Homo sapiens: one gene and its partners. The protein of the gene in region 2 purifies or fractionates together with the protein of the main gene of each other region. This does not show direct contact. Each region holds a gene or a part of one and is shown on either strand. Other genes may lie near its edges.

Region 1 (5,578 bases), on a different chromosome or scaffold from region 2:
CAGGAGAAAGGGGCACAGGGCAGAGGGTCAGTGAGAGAGTAAAGACAGAGCCCCGGCAATCTGCCTGGCCCCTAGCCCACGAGCCATCAGAGTGGCAGCCTGGTGACTGGGTCTCCTGGGCTTAGACAGCAAGGACTGTGCCACATGGCAAAGGGCAGAGGACCGAGGTTGAGAGGCAGCAGTGGTCTCTAACCATGGGGGACGATTCCGATGAAGGAGGCTGTGCTTACCCTGGCTGCAGCATCGGTCAGCACCTCCAAGGCCTGAGAAAGCTGGTGGAAGAGTTCAGCTAAACATAAGGATCAAAAAGACAGAAGAAAAATAAAGTTAAGACTTCGTAATGGTGTGCTCCCTCAAAAAAAAAAAAAATCTTCAAAGAAGTCACAGGATGGCAGACAAGCCGACATCAGCAGATGACAGACCAACAAGGAGGGGTGAGCATATCAGCAACTGACCAGACACCCCTCACAGGAGGGAAGCCCTGGGACCCATTGCCTGGAGCCAGGCAATGTGTGCTTACACCCCACAGCACTCACATGCAGAGCTTACATCGGGAAACACAATGCCCGGGTGAGTGGGTTTCTTTCTCCCCACGCCCTGAGAAGAGTCTCACCTGCTCTGGGATTATCTGGATTTTTGTCTGGGTGGCAGGAGAGGGCCTTCTGCCTATACGCCTTCTTTACCTGGAAGAGTCAGACAGAAGACATGGCCATTCACTCTCATCCCAGGGACAAACAGGAAAACCTTGCTCAATGGGTAAGGGGAATCCCATGCACACCTAAAAGAGAAGCTGCTGGCGCCCACTTCCTAGCCACCAGGGAGACTGGCAATGGAGGAGGCCAAGGCCATGGAGGGAGTGAGCCACTGTCGCCCAGCACAGGAGCTGGGCCCACCTCCTGCTAAGTGCTCAACCTCACCACTGCAGATGTCCAGGGGCTGCTGCAACAGGCAGGAGCACAGTACCCCGCTTTCTCGACAGCCACTCGAAGACAGGTACTCTACACATTCTTGGTGGGCATATAAACTGGGGCAACCTATCTGGAAGAAAATTCAGCCATCAAAATTTAAAATGTTCTTTCCCTTTGACCCAAGTCCTAGGAATCTGGACTTGTAGAAGTATGGCAAAAATAAATATACAAGGATGCTCTCTACAACACTGTTGATACTAGCCAGCCAAGATCCCCATCAACGGGGAGACTCATTTAAAAGATTATGATTGGCCGGTGCGGTGGCTCACGCCTGTCATCCCAGCACTTTGGGAGGCTGAGGTGGACAGATCACCTGAGGTCAGGAGTTTGAGACCAGCCTCACTAACATAGTGAAACTCCATCTCTACTAAATATACAAAAATTAGCTAGGCATAGTGGCGGGCAGCTGTAATCCCAGCTACTTGGGAGGCTGAGGCAGGAGAATCGCTTGAACCGAGGAGGCGGAGGTTGCAGTGAGCCGAAATCGCACCACTACACTCCGGCCTGGCGACAGAGCAAGACTCTGTCTCAAATAAAATAAAATAAAATAAAATAAAAAATAAAATAAAAGATTATGATTGAGGCCGGACATGGTGGCTCACGCCTGTAATCACAGCACTTTGGGAGGCTGAGGCGGGTGGATCACTTGAGGTCAGGAGTAGGAGACCAGCCTGGCCAACATGGCGAAACCCCATCTCTACTAAAAATACAAAAATTAGCTGGGTGTGATGACATATTCCCCTGTAATCCCCCTACTTGGGAGGCTGAGGCATGAGAATCGCTTGATTCATGCAGGAGGCAGAGGTTGCAGTGAGCCAAGATTGTGCCACTACACTCCAGCCTGTGGGACAAGAGCGAGACTCCATCTCAGAAAAAAAAAAAAAAAAAAAAAGATTATGATTGGCCAGACATGGTGTAATCCTGTAATCCTGGCATGTAATCCTGTAATCCTCATGCCTGTAATCCTGGCACTTTGGGAGGCTGAGGTGGGCAGATCACTTGAGGTCAGGAGTTCGAGACCAGCCTCGCCAACAAAGCAAAACCCTGTCTCTATTAAAAATACAAAAATTAGCCGGGCATGGTGGCGTGCACCTGTAGACCCAGCTACTTGGGAGGCTGAGGCAGGAGAATCACTTGAGCCCCAGAGGCGGAGGTTGCAGTGAGCCGAGATCATGCCATTGTACTCTAGCCTGAGTGACAGAGGGAGACCTTGTCTCAAAAAAATAATAAAAAATAAATTTCAAAAAGTTTGTTCAGGAATTTGCCACGCTTATTAAAATTTTTTTTAAATAAAATATTATAGTAGACAGAGGTATCCATGTTCTGACATAGATCTTATTATAAACTTTTGAGTTTAGTCCAGGTGCGGTGGCTCAAGCCTGTAATCCCAGCACTTTGGGAGGCCGAGACAGGTGGATCACGAGGTCAGGAGATTGAGACCATCCCGGCTAACACGGTGAAACCCCGTCTCTACTAAAAATACAAAAAAATTAGCCAGGCATGGTGGCGGGCGCCTGTAGTCCCAGCTACTCGAGAGGCTGAGGCAGGAGAATCGCTTGAACCTGGGAGGCAGAGGTTGCAGTGAGCCGAGATCACACCATTGCACTGCAGCCTGGGAGACAGAATGAGACTCTGTCTCAAAAAAAAAAAATTTTTTTTTGTCAGGTGTGGTGGTGCATGCCTGTAGTCCCAGCTACTCAGGCGGTTGAGGCGAGAGGATCGCTTGAGCCCAGGAGTTCCAGCCAAGCCTGGGCAACATGGCAAGACCTCATCTCTACAAAAATTTTTTAAACATGAGCCAGGTGTGGTAGCATGTGCCTTTGTCCCCCTACTCAGGAGGCTGAGGTGGGAGGATCACTGGAGCCCGGGAGGTTGAAGCTGTAGTGAGCATGTTCACACCACTGCATTTCAGCCTAGGTGACAGAGTGAGACCTTGTCTCAAAAATAAAAATAAAAAAATTTTAAATTAAATTAAAATAAAATAAAAAATTAGCCAGGCATAGTGGTGCGTGCCTGCAGTACCAGCTACTAAGGAGGTTGAGGAGGGAGGATCACCTCAGCCAAGGATTTTGAGGCTGCCGTGAGCTATGATGATGCCACTGCACTCCAGCCTGGGTGACAGAGCAAGACTCTCTCTTAAATACATAGAAAGAAAGAAACCCCAATATTTCTTACATAAGTAAAAATAAACACAGCTACCAAGATTCTCTTTCGTGTGCTACCTAATAGCTGTTGTAAGTGAAGACAGTGTACACAACCCCAGAATCCGTCCTCTGCCTCCAAGGCCTTTGCTTTCTCCCTTCTGCTTGGTGTGTGTTACCTGCTGCTCAAACCTCCTGGAGGAAGAGCTAAGCAGATTGGATTTCTAAGCTTCCAAGATGGACGCAAGAAACGCTTCTACACCCAAGTGTGCTAAATAAGGACTTTCAGAGGTAAGCAGCCAGCATCCACAAGGTGAGCACCTGCTGGGCAACTCCTCCATCCATGAGGCAGCCACCGGGCCCAGGACCTCTAGGGGTGTGCTGCCACCTGCTGGGCCATAGCCAGGGCACCTGCCATGGCAGCCCAAGCTGTTTGGTTCTCCTGACTGCCTTGGAGGCAGCAGGAACCACCCAGGACAGGCGCTGGGCAGAGAGGGTGTAGACGTGCCACCTGCCTTCCCAATCGCCCACCGAAGCACATCTGCCCTGCCTGCTCACCTCCCACCCTAACCCTCCCTGCCTAGCTCTGTTTTCACTACAAAAAAGAACAATATTAAGGGAAAGGAGGTGCTAGCTTAAGACAGTGTCATCTTTGCAATATATCATCTTTACTTTTTAGGTCCCTTATCATTCGTCTTTTCTTTCTTTTGCTCTCTTTGCCTGCTTTATTGTGCCTCCAGCCTCATTCCTTTACTGAACATATTTTATATTTCAGGGCCCCTGTTTGCTTTTTTTCAATAAGTAAAACAATACCAAAAACATTATAAAGATGTTCTTTCTCAATCTCCCCAGCCCTCTGACATCAAGGTTCATTAACACATATAAAAGCACCTACACACACTGACAGGAGTCTGTTGGGTGTTTGTTCCTGGCCTCTGGGCCCCTCCTCTCTGATCCTATCTCCACCCTCTCTCTGGGATGGGTGAGAGGAAGGGAGGGGGAGGCGGTCCATGTCCCAGTATCTATGGCATCACCTGCAACACTACCTTCAAGATGAACTTCCTCAGGACTAGGACTAGTAGGCTTGCCCCAGGGATGTAGGGGGGTTTTGTGGAAGATGTTTTCTTTTGTATCATGGGGCTCTTTTAAAGTGGTTTAGGCTGGGCATGGTGGCTCACACCTCTAATCCCATCGCTGTGGGAGGCCGAGGTGGGTGGATCACTTGAGGTCTGGAGTTTGAGACCAGCCTGGCCAACATGGTGAAACTTGTATCTACTAAAAATATAAAAATTAGCCGGGTGTGGTGGTGCATGCTTGTAATCTCAGCTATGGGGGAAGCTGAGGCAGAAGAATCACTTGATTCCGGGGGGCAGAGGCTTCAGTGAGCTGAGATCGTGTCACTGTACCCCAGCCTGGGTGACAGAGTAAGGCTCTGTCTCAAAAAAATAAAATAAAAGTTTGTATGTTCCTTGTTATAAATCTGAGAGGGGGAGTAGAAGTGAGTGTGAAGAAGAAGGAGCAGGCTGGGTGTGGTGGCTCACGCCTGTAATCCCAGCATTTTGGGAGGCTGAGGCGGGCGAATCAGTTGAGGTCAGGAATTCGAGACCAGCCTGGCCAACGTGGTAAAACCCCGTCTCTACCAAAAATACAAAAATTAGCTGGGCGTGGTGGCACACGCCTGTAGTCCCAGCTACTAGGGAGGCTGAGGCAGGAACCTGGGAGGCGGAGGTTGCAGTGAGCCGAGATTGCACCACTGCACTCCAGCCTGGGCGACAAAAATAAAATTCTGTCTCAAAAAAAAAAAGAAGGAGCAGTAAGAAAGCAAGACAGAAGGGGTGTCCAGCAGTGGCATCTCCTTCATTTTCTTTCCTTTTTTTGAGAGAATGCTTTCTGAATTTTATTCTAAGGGAATGATAAATATTCTTTTGTGTTTCATAATTTATTTTGAATGTTCTATATTGGAATTTTGGTTTTTCACTGTAATAGGAAAATAAAATTATTCAAGCTGAAAAATCCACTCATATTGTCAAATATGCTTTACATATATTAACTTATTTAATTCTTAAAGCCCCTATGAGGTAGAAATTATTATCCTCCTCATTTTACAAATGAGGAAACTGTGACATAAGGGTTAATTATGATACCCAAAATCCATTCAATGAAAAGCCATACAAACATTACTTTAGGCAAAAACTATTCTACTCCAGCCAATTACCACAGAAAAAACAGTGGACACCACCCCACCCATGCCATCAAAGGCCAGGTAGAGAGCATAGACTTCCATTCTTGCTACCCTAAACCTCTGCCAGAGTGGTGTCAGATAAAGCCAAACAGGGAGGCTAGGACTTTCATCCCCAACAGATGGAAATACAAAAATATAAAAATATCTCTGGGCCGGGCGTGTTGGCTTACACATGTAATCCCAGCACTCTGGGAGGCTGAGGCGGGCAGATCACCTGAGGTCAGGGG
Region 2 (4,769 bases):
AGGAGTGTGTCTGTCTTCAGCACCAGCCAGCCCCACCGTTCCCGCTGCACTGTGTGTGCAAAGACACACACTCTCACCACAGTGCCACACCTGCGGCCCAGACACTCCCTCCTGGTCTCTGAAGGCCAGAATCCCACTCGTGTGGAAGATCCAGGTACCCACCAGATTTAACAAAACAGAGAAACGATCCCTCCCCAAGCCTACAGAACACTTGGTGCGAGCATCCTTTTACAACAGCTGTAGGTTTCTGTATAATTTCTTGAGCACACAAAAGTTACAGTGCACACGGGTGCGGCTGAGTGACACGCCAGCCAGTCTGACTCAGAAGCCCTGCAGCTCAGGGATGTCCCGGTACAGATCCAGGGTCTCGGGGTTCGAGAAAGCACCTCCTTGCTCCACGGCTTTTCCAGCGATGATCTGTTTGACGGCAACTTCCACTTTCTTGCCGTTGAGCGTATACTGCGAGGGAAAGGTAGAAAAACAGGAACATTTAAACCTGAAGGGGGGAAAATCCGCAGCCCTGGATATATCCAGGCCCCAAAGGCCCAGCTCCACCTGGAGTGCCAAGAGTGAATGGGTCTCGGCTCTAAGATGCCCCTCTTCCCACCAGGTCTGCAAACGTGCACCGAAGTACGGTGAACTGACCACTGTCTCTCTGTTTGGGGGATAAAACCTGTTCTTCTGAAAGGCACTTTCAAGGACTGGTGCTGAAACTCAACTCTAACACTCTCCACACCCCACCCCCGCCCCCTGGCACGGCTGTTGAGAAACTGAGGCTATTTCAAAGTTGCCCAGAGGTCACCATGAGCATGTTCATTTTTCTTTTTTTCTTTTTTTTTCTTTTTTTTTTTTTTGAGACAGAGTCGCACTCTGTCACCCAGGCTGGAGTGCAGTGGTGCAATCTCCGCTTACTGCAAGCTCCCCCTCCCAGGTTCACACCATTCTCCTACCTCAGCCTCCTGAGTAGCTGGGACCATAGGCACCTGCCACCACGCCCAGCTAATTTTTTGTATTTTTAGTAGAGATGGGGTTTCACCAGGATGGTCTCATGTTAGCCAGGATGGTCTTGATCTCCTGACCTCATGATCCACCCATCTTGGCCTCCCAAAGTGCTAGGATCACAGGCGTGAGCCACCGCGCCCAGCCGAGCATGTTCATTTTTCTAACGCTGCACACTCTACTGGGCCCCGTTGGGACCCACGACACGTGTCACATCCAAGCTGGCCTCGAGAGGGCCCTCCAGACACCCCACTGACCCCGGCAGTGCATATTCCAGATGGGAATATAAAAAAGAGTATCTCTCAGGGTTCAGGGTCAGCCTGACCAGGATAAAAATGCAGGCATAGACCATTCCTAAATCCCAGCAGACACCCTGGGCAAGAAAGTTTTCAGGGAAGATGTGGCTCCTGCCACCCCATCTGGGGGATGCTGGGTAAATTCCTGAACCTGAGTTCACTTCCTCGAATGAAAGTAGGGGTGCCAGCACCTAGGCTATAAGGCTGTGAGTCACTGGGTGAATGAATCAGTGCACACACAGCTTCAGAAGTGCCTAGCTACTATGTTTTATGATGATTTTACTTTTATTTATACTTTTTTACTTCTCTATATATTTTATCACGTTATTCTATGATAAAGACCATTACTTTATTGATATTGCCATTACTTCAGAAGTGGCCCAGCTTCCTAGAACTAGAGGCAAGAGTGTCCCCAAGCTCCCATGAACTCCTCCTCAGAGCCAGCCATCTGCACGGGACGGTGTGTTACTTCTTCTCACAGTCGGGCCCTTTCCAAACATTCAGAGCTCCAAGATTTATGGCACATGTGTTTCACCTTGAATCCAGAAGAGCCCTTGGCAGTGTTGGTGTGTTGTGGGCTAGGAAACTTCAGGAGCAACAGAGCCCAGTGACGAGTCCTCGATCACTGGCGCCTTTTTTTTTTTTTAACCTGAGATGTAATTAAAATTCATTCACTTGAAAATTCAGTCGACGTGTGAACTAATTAAGGATCTAAGCACCGGCTTCCAAGGGCCTGCCTGTCACTTCATGTGATGTCGCCGGCCCTCCCGCTGTGAGATGCAAACGTCTCGCCTGCTCTGTGCCCTGCTACGCTTCACACAGGGGTCCACGTGCAGCTCACGGGAGCTAATACCGCCACCTTCCACCCGCTGGCAAAATACAGCAGCATCCTCTTAAAAGAAATCCTGCTACCATTTCCTCTGGGGAGAGGGGAAAAGGTAGAGGAAAGGGAAAGAGAAAGGAAGAAGCCACCGCCCCCCTGCCCACCCCCACACCAGCTCCTGCATGAGGCGTCCCCAAGTAGACAGGAGCCCAGCAGCCTCCTGTCAGGAAGGGCCAGACATCCCAGCCATGACCCGAGCAAAGGCCCGCTGGACTTGGGACAGCCATGGCTGCCTGAGGGCTGCAGTCGGGAAGCCCTCAAATGCCAGGAGTCCATTCCACTTGGCCATGACCCTCGCGGGGTCCCCAGGTCTTTATTCTGGGTGAGCAGAAGGCAGAGCTGACTATGGACACCCCTTCCTTGGGCAAGACCCCTCATCTCTCTGGGTTTCCTCATAAGAGGAAGTAAGATGGGTGTGAGGAAGACAAGTTTGTCCCGCCTCACCAGGGTCACAGGACCAGCTCCCCACCCCCCATTCACTCACCAGACACCAAAAGCATCTGCTGTTTGCCAGGCAGTCAGCTGAGCTCCGAAGAAAAGGAGGTAGACCCACAAGGTTCCTGTCCTCAAGAGGCCTCCACTCCACCAGAAAGATGTGCACATACACAAGAACTCACCCTCAGCACCCCCATGGTAAACACTGTCAAAGCTAAAGATGGAGGCCAGGACACTGTTCAAACAGGAAATGCAGGGAAAGCCTCTCTGACTTTTGCACAGAGAGCAACTGAGATCAGGTGTGTGGAAGGGCTTTGCACAGCATGCGCACCTACTCCGAATGAAGGCTGACGGTGAGTGGAGGCAGCACAGAAACAGAGGCACGGGGACTGCGTTCTGGGCACCCTGTGGCCCACGGCACCCACCAGAGAGGCTCTGTTGTCAACTCATCTTAGAGATGGGGAAACTGAGGCTTGGATGCTGCGTTGCCCAAAGTCATGCCTCAGGGGCAGAGGGGGGGCCAGAGCTAAGTGACAGAGCCCCTGTGCATAAAGACCCTCAGAGAACCCGCTGTGAAGGCTGGCGGCAAGGACTACGCCGGCCAGAGCCTCCCCAGTCCCCCGGGGCCGCTCACTCCAATGGTGCCGCATCACCACCCTGAGCTGTGGCGGGTGAGTGAGGGGCTCCTCTCCTCGTGTCACAGATCAGAGATGGGATGAGTCTTACTCAACACAAGGAGTGTGGCTGGCTCTGGGCCCAGATCTCTCCTGAGCCCTCACCAGGAACCCCCTAAATGCTGAAAATGGCACTGGCTTCCCAGGGAACAGAAGCGGCAGTGTCTCTCCACACAGAGACAGAGATGCGCCCCGGGCTCAGGCTGTTCTCGGGGTGGTGAGGGGTGGGTAGCCCACTCCCTACAAGCAACATGTGAAGGGTCAGACCTGCAACAGGCTCTCCTGCCTCAGCAAGGCCCCGGGACTTTGCAGATGAGACCTCAGTTGTCCTCTTCTGACCCTGAAGTGGGTCCAGTTCCTGAATGGGCAGGCTGGGGCCACGCCGTGTCACCTCCCTGTGGAGGCTGGACCCCTCCCTAGCTCAGCAATAAAAGAGGTAAATCCTCTCCTAAGCCTGCCGTGAGGGCTCGAAAATGTAAGGGCATTCAAAAATCTGGAAGAACCCTCCAAATAACTTCCCGAATGCACCCAGGAGGAGACCTTATCTGGGGAGAGAAAGAGCCCAGAGCCCAGCTGGGTGCCCTGGACGCAAGCCCACAAAAGCCAGGACAACCAGGGAAAGAAAGGTGCTGAGTTTTCCCCCTTCATAATAAATTGTTCCACTACTCTCGTGATCAAATATGGTTTGGTAACAACTGTTTTGGCAGCAAAAGACCTAAGTTCTTTTTCAATAATATAAAGCCAAGGGGATAAATGCAAATTCCAGTTCCCTAAAATGTTCCAGATAAGACAGCACTGATTCACTGAAGGAAAACCTTAGACCCTCATCAGAAAAAGACAATAAGGGTCACTGATTCAAGAAGTACCTTCTTGGAGAGCATCAGTGTCCCCACAGAGAGCCGCCAAGAGTCACCAACCAAAAATAAGGGAAAAAGAAAGAGATGGATGGAAAGCCCCAAGCTGCAGGGCTCTTCCCATGCAGAACCAGAACACAAAGGAAACGTGTGGACACCACAAAAAGCAACCAACACCGCAGATGCGGGCAGGCGCCGGGAGGAGGAGGGACAGGGGTCCCGAGTGGGAGTCAGCGCAGATGTGGACAGGCGCCGGGAGGAGGAGGAACAGGGTCCCGAGTAGGAGTCAGTCTTCCAGGGATGATCAGGGATTGCACACCGTTGTCGTGCTGCAAGCGCTCTCCCCAGCCCCCACTCCTGGACAGGTTGTTTTGAAGATGTTGAAATAACTTTTAAGGCAAAGAGAATGATCTACGGGTTTCAAAGTAAACGGCATCAGATATTTCAACATTCTCCAGGAAGCAGACTCTCCTGGTAAATCCTGTCTCTAGTTACACCTCACAGAATCAGCCCTGCTCCCGGGCAACATCAAAGTCAGCTTCCCCTGGGAACCCAGTGAGTGTGTGCTCCCATCTTCTCCTTAACGAATAGCCATTCCATAGGCTTCAAATACAGCCTGCCACTGTCT
Region 3 (5,578 bases), on a different chromosome or scaffold from region 2:
CCCAGAACTTTGGGAGGCCAAGGCAGGTGGATCATTTGAGGTCAAGAGTTCAAGACTAGCCTGGCCAACATGGTGAAATGCTGTCTCTACTAAAAAAATAAAATTAGCCAGGTGTGGCGGCACACGCCTGTAGTCCCAGCTACTTTGGAGGCTGAGGTGGGAGGACTGCTTTAACCCAGGAGGTGGAGGTTGCAGTAAGCCAAGATCGTGCCACTGCACTCCAGCTTGGGTGACAGAGGGAGACTCCATCTCAAAAAAAAAAAAAAAGAAAGAAAGAAAAGGAAAGAAAAAGAAAGAAAGAGAAGAAAAAGGATATTAGGTAAAAACTGAAATCTGAGAAAAAAAGGAAATCTGAAAAAATATGTTAATAACAATTATTAATATTAATTATTAAAATAAGTTAATAATAATGTATCAATACTGGTTCATTAGTTGTGATAAATGTGCCATACTAATGTAAGATGCTAATAATTGGGGAAACTAGGGTGATAAATGGAGTGAGCATATGGGACCTCTCTGTACTATCTGTTTAGTTTTTCTTTAAATCTAAAACTATTCTGAAGAAATAAAGCTCATTAATTAGAAAAGGTTAAATAAATGTCTAAATTTTAGAGAATACAAAAAAAGGACAAAAACTAGAATTCACCTCTTTCTCCTATCTCATTAACCAGATATAAACATTGTCAGCTTTTGGAGGAATTTTGCTTTATTCTCTCTTTTTTTTTGGTCTATAAATTATAATGAATTTTCTTTTTAAAAATTGGTATAATGGGCCTTTATTTAGATTATTTCACCTAAAAATTATGTAATTTGCATTTTCACATATCACTAAATATACTTTAAATGCATAAGTAACTAAATTTTTAAAAACACATAAAACATAAACCATATAATCATTTAATGGGGGAGAAGACAGAAATATGTAAAACAAGAAATGAAAATGGGAAATAACAAAACGGTGTAGCTGAAAGCACTTGTAAAAGAAGTTAGACTTGTTTTAACATAAGAAAAAATTTGCAACACAAATTACCAACAAATATATGTCAAACTCCTACAAATGAATACAAGTACAAAATATGAAAAGATATCAACAGTTTACACAAAAACAAATGGTTCCTTTGAAAAGATACTCAATGTATACTGAAAAAGAAATGAGTTAGAACTCCATTGAAATGCCATTTTTGTCTATCAGCTTATTAAAGGTCAAAAAAATGGATAACGCATGCTTGGAGAATGTGTGGAACAGAAGACAGACTCATACATTGCTAAAGTGGATATAAACTGGTTTAGCCTCGGCAAATGGCAAATTAACACCATCTTTCAGAATTGCAAATATACAGACCCTTTGACCTAGCAATTCTACTTCCAGCATTTATTCAGATATGTTCTCAAATGCACAAAACTACCTATGTACACAGCACATGCATACATACTGCATACATACGCAGCACTCTTTGCAATAGCAGCCCGGGCTCAGAGAGGTTGCATAACTTGCATAACCTGGGGTCACACAGCCAGGAAGTGGCAGGACTGGGATCAACCCCAGAGTTACCATATGACAAGCCTGTGCTCTTACTTCTTCCTCCATGTTGTTTAGAATAATGCCCTCTCCACAGCAATGACTGTAACCAGCTCTGTGTGGCCCACACAGAAAATTTCTAAGGGAAACTGCTTTATCCTTGCACACAACCATGCCAACTGTGGAGTTGCTGTTGCTGAAAAGACACTTAAACATGTTTGAAAGCAACAGCCAAACAGCAGCCCCAGGGAAGACCTCTTACTAGTACTTGGCTTGGCCCATACTGGGTCATTGAGGGCCCAGTGCTCTCCTTTGCAATCATAGTCTCAAAGTCTCTGTCCCTACTAGAGGCAGGCAGAGATCCTGAAGAGTGCTCACACTGTGGTGTGACAAGGTGGGCAAGTAAATAGACAGCCCCTTTGCTGCTCCCCCAGTACAGGGCGCACAGCAGAGTGCTCATGTCCATGAATGATAAGCCGTTAAGGGAAACTAGCAGCTGGGCAATCTAATGAAGGACAGGAGACCTAGATGTGAATCCCCACCTGTCTGTTGGACCCTAGGCCAGAACTTAATCTCTCTGAGACTGGTTGGAAGTGCTGCTAACTATGTGCTAACCTCACCTGCTTTTGCAAGTATCAGAGCAGACACCTGTAAAGTCTGGCACATCACAGGGCTTCCAGTAAGTGGTGAGTGCTCTTTTAAATTGTGGATGTGTTCCAACATTGCCATTTCACCACTTGAATGTGCCTGGCTATGAACTGATTGTGTCCTCCCCAAATTCACATGTTGAAGCCTAATATAGGTTGGATATTTGTCCCTGCTCAAATCTCATGTTGAGTTGTAATCCTCAGTGCTGGAGGTGAGGCCTGGTGGGAGCTGTCTGGGTCATGGGGGTGAGTCTGTCATGGCTTGGTGCTGTCTTAGGGATAGTGACTGAGTTCTGGAGAGATATCTGCTCATTTAAAAGTGTGTGACACCTCCCCACCCCCGCCTCTTGCTCTTGTTTTCACCATGTGACATGCCTTCTCCTCCTTCACCTTCTGCCATGACTGTAAGCTTCCTGAGGCCTCTCTAGAAGCCAAGCAGATGCCAGCACCGTGCTTCCTGTAAAGCCTGCAGAACCGTGAGCCAACTAAACTTCTTTTCATTATAAATTACTCAGTCTTAGGTATTTCTTTATAGCAATGCAAAAATGGCCTAACACAAAGCCCCAGTGTGATAGTATTTGGAGGTGGAGCCTTTGAGAGATAATTAGTCCATGAGGGTGAGCTCCACCTCCTCTAGGAAGCCTGCCCTGATCCAGTAGGCCTCCTGGGGCCTGCCCTGTACCTCTGTCCACCCTTGAGCCAGCCAGGGGGACATCTTTCAGGCCTTACTGATCTGCTTTTTTCTACCTTGAGGGCATTCCTCTGATGGCAGGAAACTTTCACCAGCACTTCTGTGCCCCCAGCCACTGCACTACTCCCTCCATGCAAGACACAAGCCTGGTACTTTGAACATGGGGCAGAACACACATATGGACTGTGGAGAGGTTGTGCTGGGCTTCAGGGAGGGCTCATGCTCTGCTGTTTTTCAGAGGATGAAGCAGAGAAAGGGCCAGGGCTAAAGTCAGGATATGGGGACATGAAGCCCAGTAATGCCACTATCATAGTTGGACTCTCACTCCTGAGCAGCTGACTCTTGGCTGTATCCAGTCTACTCCTTTATTAGCTACTGCTTTGCATCCTTCCCTGCTTCCAACCCTCATTTATTCGTTCAAAAAATGCTTAGTGAACACAGTGCCAGGCACTGTGCAGCTGAGAGCAAGGGACACAGCAGTGGCCAAGTCGGGCTCATCCCTGCCTTCTCTCTCCAGCCAGAGGGAGTGGGCACTTAGCACATTTCTCCTCTCCTCATCTCCACTACAGCATGCAGCACTGGGCCAGGCACATGGGACATACAACAGGATCCATCTTCCTGACAGGAATACCATCATCTCTCAACCCAGTAAGCAGCCAGCATCCTGAAGAACGCCAAAGGATGCCTCCGTCACTTTTCCCCAAAACCAAACTTAATTTCCTACGTCATGCTTGGATGGGGATGCTTAATGACATTATCCAGAAGGATCTGCTCTGGGGCTTCAATCATGGCTGAGCAAGAAAACAAAAACTCTAATTTGCTAATTGCCTTTCCCAGGACCCTAGCAGATGTTCCTACCCGACAGGGAAATGAGGAGACATGAAGTGGCAATGCCACACTGTTTAAGGAACCTCATTAGTTTGAAAAATATGATGCACAGTCTTCAGAGGCCTGGGACCCAAAATCACAGCCACAGAGGCCTGTCTAGCTGAGCTCAATAGGCACGGGGTCTGCAAGAAGACATGACTGCTGTGGGGATTGGTAGTGACTGCGTGAAATGCCCTTCTCTCTGTGTGGCCTCTGGCTTTGGACTTGCTGGAGCCAGAGGTGGGGGCAAGTCTCCTTCTTTCATCTAGCCAGCAGTAATGATGCCTGCCCTGGGGATCTCAGGCTGCTGAAAAGCATAAGACTCAACCACTTTCCCTTAGGGAGACAGCCTACACCAAAGGGGTCAGACTCCACGAGAGATCTGAATAATGACAAAGACTGTAAAAAGAAATCCAGTTAGATACCACTGGAATTCCTTTATAGACTGCATATTACTTTCAAATATATACTACTGCACTTGTAAAAGTACACAGTTGATCTAATCACGCTCCTGCTCAAAATCCTCGACAGGTTCTCTGAGGCTTTCAGGATATTAGATATTAGTGCCTCTGGGGAGCTCCCCAGCCCCCTGTGCTCTCAGAGCCCTTGTACTTGTGCCCACCACAGCTCTTATCACAAGGGGACATGATGTCTCTTTGGCTGCCTCCCTCCCATCGGACTGGGGCAACTTGGGAGCAGGGGCCGGGTGTCCCTCATCAGAGTCCCCATGGACCTGGCTTAGAGAAAGTGGTGGGTGAACGTCTATGGAATGCACGAGCACGAACAAATGAAGAAAAGCAATACACTGCCTTAGAAAGAACCAACACTTAAGAATGAACTGGGAATGCAGAGCACTGTGAGCTCAGACTATTTATTTCATGTCTTTATTTTTCAATTTTTGACTCTGTGCAAAGGTACCAATGATAGGTGCCTGACCTTAGTTTAACTGGAATGTTTTTAAGATTTTTCTTGTGCAAATATTAAGTAGGGAGGCTGTTTTATTAAAGATGCTCATTCAGAATGAACCCACCAACAATGAATGAACTAAAGAACCCCCAAGGTTTTGTTCATAGGCATTCATTAGCTTTTCCCTGCTATACACACATGGAGCTCAGGCTACAACTGGCTGGGCAAGCCCTTTCTTCCCCAAGAGCTCACAAAGAGAGCCATCTGTCCAGTTCCAGGTGGAATCATCTCACGCCTGTTTTCCTGGAGCGAGAATCAATGAGGCTTCCCTGAGCCTCTCCTCCTCCTGGGGTTTCCATGGGAATCCTCCCACGCGTGACTGAGCCAGGGGCCCCCAAGGTGCAAGCTGGGCTGTCAGCCAGCAAGGAGAGCAGCAAATGGGATGAAGGAGGTTTGCTAGGCTGTGACCAGGGCAGCAAGCTCTGCAAGGTCATTTGAAAGAGACATACCACTGAGACAGCAAGGCCACGTGCAGTCCGGGCCAGCCCGGTCACCACAGCTGCCCCTGAGCCCAGAGGCCTGCCCCAGGCACATGTGGAGGTTGTTTGCAGGGCAGCTGGATTCCCTGAGGCCCAGCATGTCTGGGCTGGGTCAAAGCATGAAGGGAGAAGATGGGAAGGGTACCATTTAATGAAGCCCTCTGGGGAAAACGATGATGAAAACATGATAAGGTTTGCGTCCAATCCCTCATTTACCTCCCAAGATGAACCTTCTCCACTTGGTATAACTGGTTGTCTGGAAACAGAATGCCTAAAAGAAAAGCAGAACTATTCATGCCTCTGGCTTGAGCCAGGTCATAATAGGGACCTGCTGGGATTTCTGAAGATCCCTCTGTTAAGCCTACAGTATCTCTGGGGGCATTTTTGAGATACTAAGGAGGAAAGGAGA
Region 4 (5,578 bases), on a different chromosome or scaffold from region 2:
CAAGGCCTCAATGGCTGTTCTTTTCACAGGCGTGAGCTTTAATGGGAGGCTACACAGTGCTTCTGCTGGACTGAGTGCTTGAGCCAGGACTGAGCCCCAGGCTGGGGTAGGAGAGGAAGAGGTAGGGAGGGTGGAAGGTTGCGGAGTTCCTGGCTCAGAGAGAAAGACCTCGAACCACAATGAGAATGGGGACTGAAGAAGGAATGAGAAATGAGGTCTCAGACGTTGGGAGCATGCTGACCAGAGGTGAATGGGTGTAGCTCCTCTTCCTGCACCCTGGGCTGGGGCCTGGAAGCTTGCTGACACTCCATCTCATGGGGAAGGGTATAATTTTTTTTGCTGGCGGGGAGGCACCATGTTCCTCCCTAGTCATTTCCCAGTTTCCCAGGATGTTCATTCTGCACATCTTCCTTGTGACCCCCTCTGGTTAGGGGGACTGGAAACTCCCAGCATCTGTTCTCTGACCCTCCCTAGGGACCTGGCTGCTTTGGGAGTGGGAGAAGGGGGAGGCAGGAGGAGGGAGGCCCCCTCACCCCTTGAGCTGTTTTCCAAGAAGGCTGACGTCCCTGGGGCCCACTCTAAGGGTCACTCCTGGCTCCTCCAGGATTGGCCTGAAGTGCCTCTCTGACGGTGCTGCTGAAACTGCTGTTGCTTTAGAAACCAGGCCTTTGGGGGTTTGCTTTTGCAGAGATGGGGGGTGCATTGTCACAGAGCTTCAGGCACAGTTGCAGCAAACCCTGGAAGGAAGAGGCCACTGCTTATTCCTGTGTTACACATTAGGAAACAGGGACAGAGAAGTGAAAGAACTCACCCATGCAGCTAGCAAGGGCAGATCCTGAATTTGAACCAGGACTGCTGCCTCTGGGGGCCATGTGGATTGAGCCATGGTGAGGCCTTGGTTGGCACAGGAGGAGGCTGGAGGCAGGGCCAGGCTTGGGGTTGTGTGGTGGCCTAGCTGTTCTCTGTGGACACAGCTGCAGCAGGGGAGGCCCAGTGCCCTCTTTGCCTGTTTCTGATGAGGAATTGTGTGTGCACAAGAGTCTAGCTCCCCGAGGACAGCGACCAGCAGGTTCTCCATTGAGAAAGGAGGTTTGGTTTTCCCAGTTTCCTTTGGGTTCCTGAAGTCCCTTGCTTCCTGCCTCTATGTTGTCACTATCCAGAGGGTTACAGGCCCTCAGTGTTTGCCCTTTACTGAGTACTGGCACTGCATGAGATGTGGGTCCTACCCTCAGTGGGCATGGGGCATGTCCCTCTCAAAGCAGGCATGGACAGGTAACCAGCTGACTGCAGCAAGGCCTGAGGAGTCCCAGTGGGAGGCCACTTGGTGGGGGCCAGGGAGAGGGAAGTGCCCCCCAGGGCAGGGGTGAGGCAAAAGAGTGGGGTGGGGAGTTCTGCTTCCTCAGAGCCCCCAGTGCAGTCACTGGCCCTGACCATATCATTTAGGGCTGAAGTACGGGCCTTGGCCAGGCCCTCCAAGCAAATGTGATGTGGTCATTCATTCAACAAACATAAACCAAACACAGCTCCTCCCTGTCTGGTGCTGCGCTGAGTGCCGGGGACACAGGGTTTGACAAAAACACAGTCACTACCCTTGTAAGGTGAGGAAGAGGGATATCAAATGATCCCAGACATGAGAAAGGGGATTCCAAAAAGAGCTGTAGTCCTGTCCTGGGATTTGCAGGGTGTGCATCCTTAAAAAAGAAATGTTGGGGCTGAGACCCTGTCGAAGGTGTGGCTGGGAGGGACGGGATTGTTCCTGGCTGAAGGGATGACCTGGGCAAAGGCAGGGCGGGGGGACGGTCAGGCAGTAGGTTGGGAGGAAGACAGGGAGGGTGCCCTGCATGGACCAGTTCAGAGTGTTTTGTGAAAAGGGCCTGCAGCCTTTGCTCACCAGCCACTGGTGCAGTTTAACCAGAGCCTTCAGGAAGCATCCTGGGAGATGGGGGGACCTTGAGGACACTGGGCTGTCACTGCCTCCTGGCTGCAGAGGTGTGGCTGGAGCAGCCTCTGCAGGATAGGAGGGCCTCACACTCTTGTGCTTGGCCATTTGTCATATACTCTGAGTTCACAGCTTTGGGGGCAGCTGTAGTCGGGGGGCGGTTACGGCAGGCTGCTCTCCAAGACCAAGTTCCCTGGGGACAAGCTGAGCTTTCCAGGGCTGAGGCAACTGACCCCACAGTGGCCCTGGCCAGAGGTGAATGGGTGTAGCTCCACTTCCTGCACCCTGGGCTGGGGCCTGGAAGCTCACCTCCAAGAGGGGGTTGCTGGCCTGGTCCATTGGCCAAAGGGGGCTCCTGGTGGTACCCAAACTGTGAACACCCTGCCCATGAGGCAGGGCTTGGGCCTGGGTGGACTTTGCCCACATTGAGAAGTGGGGAGCGAGGTGAGGCCACATCTGCTCCCAGAGCAGCTTGGCACCAGAGGGACCTTGAGATCATGCCCTCCACAGGCCCAGCCCTAAACTATGAGGCCACCCTGTAGTTCCTCTTCTGTCCCTGGACTGATGAGCCAGTGTCACTCATCTCTAAGTTGTTCAGTATGTTTCCCTGACAAAATAAGGACATAATTCTTTACATAATACAATTCCATGATCAACTCATTTCTTAGTGTTACCTCATATCCAGGCCATTTACATTTTCCAGATCCCCCAAATGTCTTTTTTTTTTTTTTTTTGAGACGGAGTTTTGCTCCTTTTGCCCAGGCTAGAGTGCAGTGGCGCAATCTCGGCTCACCGCAACCTCCGCCTCCTGGGTTCAAGCGATTCTCCTGCCTCAGCCTCCCGAGTAGCTGGATTACAGGCATGCGCCACCACGCCTGGCTAATTTTGTATTTTTTAGTAGAGACAGGGTTTCTCCATGTTGGCCAGGCTGGTCTTGAACTCCCGACCTCAGGTGATCCGCCCGCCTCAGCCTCCCACAGTGCTGTGATTACAGGCGTGAGCCACCTCACCCGGCCTTTTTTTTTTTTTTTTTTTTGAGACAGAGTCTCGCTCTGTCACCCAGGCTGGAGTGCAGTGGCGGGATCTTGGCTCACTGCAACCTCCGCCTCCCAGGTTCAAGCGATTCTCCTGCCTCAGCCTCCTGAGTAGCTGGGATTACAGGTGCACACCACCATGCCTAGCTGATTTTTGTATTTTTAGTAGAGATGGGGTTTCGCCATGTTGGCCAGGCTGGTCCCAAACTCCTGACCTCAGGTGATCTACCCGCCTTGGCTTCCCAAAGTGCTGGGATTACAGGTGTGAGCCGCAGCGCCCGGCACCCCCCAAAATGTCTTCTTTGATAGGTAGTTCGAAACACCCTCTCCTTTATTTTTCTTCTTGCAGCTGATGTGGTGAAAAAAACAGGTCAGTTGTCCTGAAGATTATCCTTTTTTGGTCTGTTAAGTGTGTGTTGATCTAGAACAAGGGTTGGCAAACTTTTGCTCTGAAGGGCCAAATAATAAATGGTTTAGACTTTGCAGGCCATATGGTCTCTATCATAACTACTTGGAAGTAACTTTGTTTTAGTGCAAAAACAGACAACATGTAAGTGAATGAAGTGTAGTGTTCTATTAGTAAAACTTTATTTGCAAAAATTTATTTGCCAGGCCTGGCGGCTCACGTCTGTAATCCCAGCACTTTGGGAGGCTGAGGTGGGTGGATCGCTTAAGCTCCGGAGTTTGAGACCAGCCTGGGCAACTCTGTCTCTACAAAAATTAGCCGGGCATGGTGGTGCGTGGCTGTGGTCTCAGCTACTTGGCAGGCTGGGGTGGGAGGATTGCTTGAGCCTGGGAGATTACGGTGGCAGTGAGCTGGACTCCAGCCTGGGCTGGACAGAGTGAGACCCTGTCTCAAAAACAAAAACAAAAACACAACAGGCAGCAACCTTACCATCAGCTGTGTAATCAGCTGTAGTTTGCTGCTTTCCTATCTAGAATAATCTCCCTCGTTTTATTTTTCTTCTTTCTTTTTTTTTTTTCTTGAGACAGAGTCTCGCTGTGTCACCCAGGCTGAAGTGCCGTGGCGCGATCTTGGCTCACTGCAACCTCCGCCTTCCGGATTCAAGTGATTCTCCTGCCTCAACCTCCCAACTAGCTGGGACTACAGCTGCCCGCCACCACACCCGGCTAATCTTTGTACTTTTGGTAGAGACTGGGTTTCACTATGTTGGCCAGGCTGGTCTTGAACTCCTTACCTTGTGATCCGTGAAAGTGCTGGGATTACAGGCGTGAGCCACCGTTCCCAGCCTGCTTTCTTTTTCTTCTTGACATTTGAAAACAAAAACAAAAACAAAAAACAGGTCAGTCATCCTGTAGAATATCCTGCCTTCTGGGCTCGTCTCATTGCTTTCTCATGGAGTCATTAAATTTGTTCCCCTCTCCTCTGTGTTTTTAGCAAATGAGAAGTTGAAGTTAGAGGCTGGTTTAGATTCCAGGTTAAACCTTTTTGGCAGGAATCCCTTGTCAGTGATGCTGTGACTTTGGGCTGCCTTACTTCAGGAGGCATCAGTGTGACAGGCTGTCCTGCAGAGAGTAGAGAGATAGACCAGTGTGTGACTGGGAGAAGTCACATACCTCCATTGCAAACTTGTGCCATTCCTCTTAAACACCAGGTCCTCGGCCAGGCATGGTGGCTCACACCTGTAATCCCAACACTTTGGGAGGCCGAAGTGAGCGGATTGCTTGAGGTCAGGAGTTCGAGACCAGCCTGGCCAACATGGTGAAACCCTGTCTCTACTAAAAATACAAAAATTAGCTAGGCGTGGTGGCGGGCGCCTGTAGTCCCAGCTACTCGGGATGCTGAGGTGGGAGAGTCGCTCGAACCCAGGAGGCAGATGTTGCAGTTAGCCGAGATCGTGCCATTGCATCCCAGCCTGGGTGACAAGAGTGAAACTCCGTCTCAGAAAAAAAAAAAAAACAAAAACCATACCAGGTCCTCTGTCAGTGACGCTTGGGCGCCTGTGAGTATCTGCTTCCTGTCAACCTTCCCCTCTGGTTTAGCATCCACTGGTTCTTGTTGCCTCCAGCATTTGTTCCTTTAGGGGTTGCAGAATGACTTAGCATTTGGTCATTTCTTTGTTATTTATTAGCAAGAATTCTTTCCGAAAGAAGAGCTTTCCATCAACCACCAGGGCAATTTGGTTACAAGAAAGGCCAAGAGACAGGCTGAATTCTTCCTCTTTAATCCTCAGCTTTCAGAGTAAAGAGGGCACTGCTACCGTCAGTGGTGACAAATGAGGGCTTTTGAGGGCTTGGGTTTGTTTGTTTTGCTTTCTCTCTTCTTTTCTAATAATCTCTGTGAATGCACTGCTTTTATGTGTTCCATCTGTTTCCATCAGTTGCACTCATTATTCTTTTTGATGCTCAGATGGTCCCAGCTCGGCCCATTGGAGGCTTCCTGGGGCGCCTCTCACTGCCCCTGTGCTGAGGCTGCCGTTGGGGAGCTGAGGCGGAGGCAGGCCTGAGACTCAGGGCAGGGTCTGAATGGGGTTCAGGTGGGGGCACACCCCCTCCACAGGCATCTGTTTTGCATATGGCCCTGACCGATCACCAGGAGGGAAAGCTCTAAGGGCACGCTTACTTTATGTGGTCCCCTGTTCTT

What was found.
Region 1: the proteins of AACS (region 2) and DNAJC17 fractionate together in Homo sapiens (co-fractionation; one large-scale study listed by BioGRID). This does not show direct contact.
Region 3: the proteins of AACS (region 2) and SPSB4 purify together in Homo sapiens (co-immunoprecipitation; one large-scale study listed by IntAct). This does not show direct contact.
Region 4: the proteins of AACS (region 2) and ADISSP fractionate together in Homo sapiens (co-fractionation; one large-scale study listed by BioGRID). This does not show direct contact.

The regions. Positions count from the first base shown.
Region 1 is NC_000015.10:40,779,315-40,784,892, forward strand, and holds part of DNAJC17 (dnaJ homolog subfamily C member 17), read right to left. Parts: intron 684-5,578; coding exon 614-683; intron 290-613; coding exon 231-289; intron 1-230. UniProt on the Homo sapiens protein: May negatively affect PAX8-induced thyroglobulin/TG transcription.
Region 2 is NC_000012.12:125,137,782-125,142,550, reverse strand, and holds part of AACS (acetoacetyl-CoA synthetase), read right to left. Parts: exon of another isoform or gene 1,623-4,769; intron 460-1,622; coding exon 322-459; 3' UTR 1-321.
Region 3 is NC_000003.12:141,056,428-141,062,005, reverse strand, and holds part of SPSB4 (SPRY domain-containing SOCS box protein 4), read right to left. Parts: intron 1-5,578. UniProt on the Homo sapiens protein: Substrate recognition component of a SCF-like ECS (Elongin BC-CUL2/5-SOCS-box protein) E3 ubiquitin-protein ligase complex which mediates the ubiquitination and subsequent proteasomal degradation of target proteins.
Region 4 is NC_000020.11:3,760,653-3,766,230, reverse strand, and holds part of ADISSP (adipose-secreted signaling protein), read left to right. Parts: intron 1-5,578. UniProt on the Homo sapiens protein: Adipocyte-secreted protein (adipokine) that acts as a key regulator for white adipose tissue (WAT) thermogenesis and glucose homeostasis at least in part through activation of protein kinase A (PKA).